Linked DNA regions of Homo sapiens: region 1 is linked to region 2. Evidence: fine-mapped expression QTL. A gene starts in region 2. The other region holds a variant in brackets. All regions are shown on one strand. Distances are between the middles of the regions.

What was found.
Region 1: its variant is fine-mapped to the expression of TP53I3 in whole blood (INTERVAL, PIP 0.99).

Annotation. Positions count from the first base shown.
Region 1 is chr2:24,118,139-24,121,051 of GRCh38, reverse strand. It overlaps PFN4 (profilin family member 4), which reads left to right. Exons shown (of 5, transcript NM_199346.3): 4 at 1,370-1,475. It also overlaps a transcript of FAM228B not described here. Among named protein-coding and RNA genes, the nearest start is that of PFN4, 3.7 kb to the left of the region's middle. The variant C/T (reference allele first, on the strand shown) is at 1,390.
Region 2 is chr2:24,083,730-24,086,627 of GRCh38, reverse strand. TP53I3 (tumor protein p53 inducible protein 3) reads left to right here and starts at 1,794. Exons shown (of 5, transcript NM_004881.5): 1 at 1,794-2,439. The coding sequence starts at 2,302. It also overlaps a transcript of FAM228B not described here. RefSeq lists enhancers at 1,009-1,509, 2,257-2,306, 2,457-2,556 and a silencer at 2,067-2,246.

The DNA of each region.
Region 1 (2,913 bases), 34 kb before region 2:
AGCCATTGTCTTGAGATAGCAGTCTAGTGCCAGGAAGACATATGTGAAAGAAAGTCCTATCAAGAGCCTGGTTTTGAGAAATGTTCATTCCAGAATCTATTAACTGAGCCTTGCCTGAACTCTTTCCAATACAGTCCCACCTTCATACTCTACATCCTCCTTTAAAAAAAAAAAAAAAAGAGATAATCATTTCTGTGCTTAAAACATTTCTCAGTGGCCAGGCACAGTGGCTCACACCTGTAATCCCAGCACTTTGGGAGGCTGAGGTCAGGAGTTCAAGACCAGCCTAGCTAACATGGTGAAACCCTGTTTCTACTAAAAATACAAGAAAATTAGCCAGGTGTGGTGCGCCCTTGTAATCCCAGCTACTTGGGAGGCTGAGGCAGGAGAATTTCTTGAATCCAGAAGGCAGAGGTTGCAGTGAGCCGAGATCGTGCCATTGCACTCCGGCTTGGGCAACAAGAGCGAAATTCCATCTCAAAAAAAAAATTTTAAAAAAAATCAGCTCTCTGTTGCTTATAAGGAATGAAAGAGATGAAAATCATTCATTGGATGCCCTATATTATGGGTTAGGCATGCTGCTTCATCCACATTATAAACTAAATAATCTCATTTTACAGATGAGGACACTGAGGCTTAACAAGGTTAAATAACCCTTACTCATGCAGCAGAAAAGGAGGCACTAGAATTCAAGCCCAGAGCTGTCCAATTCCAAAATGTACGACCTTTCCATTACATCAGTTTTGTTTTGTTTTGTTTTGTTTTGTTGTTGTTTTTTTTTTTGAGACGAGTTTCACTTTTGTCGCCCAGGCTGGAGTGCAATGGCACGATCTCGGCTCACTGCAACCTCCACCTCCTGGGTTCAAGAGATTCTCCTGCCTCAGCTTACCGAGTAGCTGGGGTTACAGGCGCCTGCCACCACGCCTGGCTAATTTTTGTATTTTTAGTAGAGATGGGGTTTCACCATGTTGGCCAGGCTGGTCTCAAACTTCCAACCTCAGGTGATCTTTCTGCCTTGGCCTCCCAAAGTGCTGGGATTACAGGCGGGAGCCACTGCACCCGGCCTACATCAGTTGTTCTAATTGGGATGGGGTATATGATAATCAATTGCAGAACTTTTTCAAAATCCATCTACCATTATTATAACAGTCTGAAACTTTTTGAGGAAAGGCAACTAAATTGGTGGAAAAGAGTGGACAGTCCAAAAACAGATATATAAACATATGGAAAATATATACGGAATATGTATATTCCATATATATTCCAAACATATGGAAATCAGGAAATGGTGAAAAACGTAGCTGGAGCATGACCACTGGTCCTGTGATTAGAACCAAGAGCAGAATATTCTCTTATATTCTTTATACAGGAGAACACTGGTGTGGTTGT[C/T]GTGAAGACCCATCTGTATCTTCTGGTAGCAACTTACACTGAGGGCATGTATCCTAGCATCTGTGTGGAAGCCACAGAGAGCCTGGGTAAGTTGGCCTCCTAGTTCCTGTCTTCATTCCCTATGTTAGTTGGGTCTTCCGACTACGAGTAACAGAGATCCAACTCAAACCAGCTAGGGCAGAAAGGAGGAATTTATTGGAAGGATGCTGAGGTTATTTACATAGCCACTGGAAGGACAGGGTGCAGCTGAGCCATGGGGAAGGTAGATTCAGGGACTGGAACACTGCTAGGATTCTGTCTTGACTTCTAAATGAGTCAGCTTTGTTCTGTCTCATAGCAAACTGTTTCCTTTCCTGGCTGATATCATGGCCAAGCCTCCCATAATACCCCTTAATTTCTCTTAGGACCCTGATTTGGCAAGTTTCAGGTCATATGGTTTACCCCTGTATCAGTCAGCTATGTAGGTGGGGCAGGATAGGGGAGGGGGGAGACAGCAGGGTAAAAAGGCAGAGATGTGGCTGCTGGGGGTCTACCCTATATAAAGAGACATTTTACAGGAAAAGGAATTACTGTGAGTCAGGCAGCCACTTTGTTGGTATATACTGCATTCCCCCTCCGTGTCTATACATTTTTGAATAAAGATCTCATAGAGAACTAGCTTGGGTATTATATCGGTGAGAGTTGAGCTTAATAAATGGTAAATTGTGTTTGTGTTTAGATTTTTCAAAATCTAAATTTAAATTTTAAAAAGTTTACTGGAGTTGCATAAACACTCCTTTGAAACAGAAGCCTCTAGTAACAAAAGCAGCCACTCATTCATTCATTCATTCATTCAACAAACATTCAGAGGTACTTACCATGTGCCCTGCACTATCCTAGATAAATTAGGGAAGCAGAGCTGGTTAAGATATAGCTTCTGCCTTCCATGCCTCTGTACATGCTGTTCTATCTGCCTAAAATATTTTCTGTTTCCTTCCTGTCCCTCACATCTATTCTGCAAATTCCTAATCATCATTAAAGAACCAAGTCAGATCTCAGGCTTCTATCCATTGTGGTATGTATTTTATGCATACCTTTATGATTATCCCCATTACAGTTCTTTGTTTATCTAGATTGTGAATCCCTGGAAGGCATTTGTCTTGTCTTAATCCTTCTTTTTCTCCATTACCTAACACAGTGTCTGATGTTGGGTAGGCAATTAGTACATGTTTGATGAATAAATCAATGAATTACTTCGGCCTAGCAGAGTCAGGGAAGGCGCCAGAGAGCTGAATCTTAAAGGGCCAATTGAGAAATTAAGTTTATCACAGAAACTATATACCTATGTACAGATATGCCTCATTTTATTGCATTTTGCATTATTGGACCCTTCCTGAACAGATGTCAGGATTTGAAGGAGGCTCCATTTCAGAATTGTAGGGCAGGAGCAGAGAGCAGAACAGAGACATAGAGAGCCAGGTTAATTATCTAATTAAAATAACCAGAATATGAGATTAGAAAGATGGGCAATTTGGCTGTCAGGAA
Region 2 (2,898 bases):
TTGGGAGGCTGAGGCAGGAGGATTGCTTGAGTCCAGGAGTTTGAGACCAGCCTGGGCAACATAATGAGACCCCTACACTACAAAAAAGAGAGAGAGAGAAAGAGGGGGTGGGGAAGGAGGGAAGGAAGGAAGGAGGGAGGGAGGGAGAGAAGGAAGCCATTTTTTTTAACCAATTGTGAGTAACTTATTCTTTCCACACTTGTTAGAACCTGAAATTTTATAAAATATAGGCATGCATTTTTGTTCTTATGAATCCATCCTTTAGTGAATGTTTTCAATCCGTATAATCTGGTAGAATTTAGGAAAACTGTATTCTTTTATTTGGTTAACTATTGAATCTTCTTCATCCATTCCTCTTCCTCCTTCTAAAATTCCTTTTTTTTTTTTTTTTTTGAGACGGAGTCTCACTCTGTCGTCCAGGCTGGAGTGCAGTGGTGCGATCTCGGCTCACTGCAAGCTCCCCCTCCCGGGTTCACGCCATTCTCCTGCCTCAGCCTCCCGAATAGCTGGGACTACAGGCGCCCGCCACCACGCCCGGCTAATTTTTTGTATTTTTAGTAGAGACGGGGTTTCACCGTGTTAGCCAGGATGGTCTCGATCTCCTGACCTCGTGATCCGCCCGCCTTGGCCTCCCAAAGTTCTGGGATTACAGGCGTGAGCCACCGCGCCCGGCCTAAAATTCCTGTTATTCTCATAGCAGGGTCTCCTGAATTTTTCCTTAAGTCCCATCATTTTATTATTTCCATCTCTATAGGCTTTTGCTCTGTTGTGTTAAAGAAATAATTATTCAATGATACTTGTTAAAGCACATTAAGGAAGACTTTATTTAGCACCATCGCTACAGGTTTAGGGACCACTGCAATGAGTTCTTGCAGTGGAGGAGACAGGTTGGGATCAACTCTGAATGCATCACGGACAAGTGGGAATGTATAGCCAAGGAGCAGTGTAGGGGGTCAGTGGATGGAAAATTGGTAAGAGGCATCAGGGGTAAGGGGGATTCTATCTAAACTGACCTAACAGGATTCTCACTGAAGACAGGCCAGGGTGGTCGGATATCACTTGGGGGATGGTGGAGGATGAGATATTGAGGGTGATCAGATGTCAAGGATGGGAGGTTCTTACTAAAACAGGAATTTACAAGGAGTGCTACGGATATGTAGTGGGGGGAGGCCAGGGATGCTGCTAAACATCCTACGATGCACAGGACGATCTCCTACAATAACGAACTAGCTAGTCCAAAATGTCAATAGCGCCGAGATTGAGAAACCTTCATGTAGCTTACGGATACAGCTTTTACCCAATCGCCAGCATCCTTCTCCTGGGGCTGAACCTCTCCCCCAGGACTGTCAGGAGGAGGCGAGTGATAAGGATCCCAGGACTGCGTTTTGCCTTCCTTCCCCACCCCCACTCCCAACGGCTCCTTTCTCTTCTCTTAGCAGCACCCAGCTTGCCCACCCATGCTCAAGATGGGCGGGATGCCAGCCTGTTACATAAATGTGCCAAAAGCCTGGCCATGCCTGGAAAATGGACCAATCCGCCCGCCAAGAGGTTGGGTCTCGTTCCCTAGAGAGAAGGAAGTTTCCTCTCCTTGAAGTGAGAGCTAGAATCGCACTTTCTGTCAAGCTGAGAGAAAGACTCTTTTCCAGAGGCTAAAAGGACAAGAAAATCTGATTTGCTTGCTTCTAACTTTGCGTTTTAAAGGGGGAAGGAGGAAAGGAAAGAGGGGGAGGGTGGTTCTGCTTAGCCCCACCCCTCCGGCTACCCCAGGTCCAGCCGTCCATTCCGGTGGAGGCAGAGGCAGTCCTGGGGCTCTGGGGCTCGGGCTTTGTCACCGGGACCCGCAGGAGCCAGAACCACTCGGCGCCGCCTGGTGCATGGGAGGGGAGCCGGGCCAGGAGTAAGTAACTCATACGGGCGCCGGGGACCCGGGTCGGGCTGGGGGCTTCCAACTCAGAGGGAGTGTGATTTGCCTGATCCTCTTCGGCGTTGTCCTGCTCTGCCGCATCCAGCCCTGTACCGCCATCCCACTTCCCGCCGTTCCCATCTGTGTTCCGGGTGGGATCGGTCTGGAGGCGGCCGAGGACTTCCCAGGCAGGAGCTCGGGGCGGAGGCCGGGTCCGCGGCAGACCAGGGCAGCGAGGCGCTGGCCGGCAGGGGGCGCTGCGGTGCCAGCCTGAGGCTGGGCTGCTCCGCGAGGATACAGCGGCCCCTGCCCTGTCCTGTCCTGCCCTGCCCTGTCCTGTCCTGCCCTGCCCTGCCCTGTCCTGTCCTGCCCTGCCCTGCCCTGTGTCCTCAGACAATATGTTAGCCGTGCACTTTGACAAGCCGGGAGGACCGGAAAACCTCTACGTGAAGGAGGTGGCCAAGCCGAGCCCGGGGGAGGGTGAAGTCCTCCTGAAGGTGGCGGCCAGCGCCCTGAACCGGGCGGACTTAATGCAGGTACCCAGGGCTCAGCCGCGCCGGGGCGGGCGGGACTCCAGAGCCTCCCTCTCAACAGCACTCAGTGGACATTGACCAGACGTGAAGGCGTGCACCGCTCCACACCCAGCAGGCAGCTGCGCTGGGGCTTCCCAGACCTAAACCCAGGGCGCCCTCTTTGTTCATGCAAAACAAGGGGGAGTACTTGTAAAGCAGAATCCACCCCGAGCTAATCCATAGCCACTCAGGCCTCCAGATGAGGGCGGAACTAACATTGTTGTGGGGTGTGGGCACACTTACTCCCCAGGCTACCCTGTTCGCCATCTTAATTCTACAGATAAGGAAACTGAAGTTCAGTGAGGTTAAGCAGTACGCCCAAGGCCGTGACACTAGCAATCAGAAGAGCTGGGATTCAAGCTGAGGTCTTTGTGGCTCCAAAGACCTCTTAACTCTTTCCACTCTGAGAGTCCCGGAGCTGAC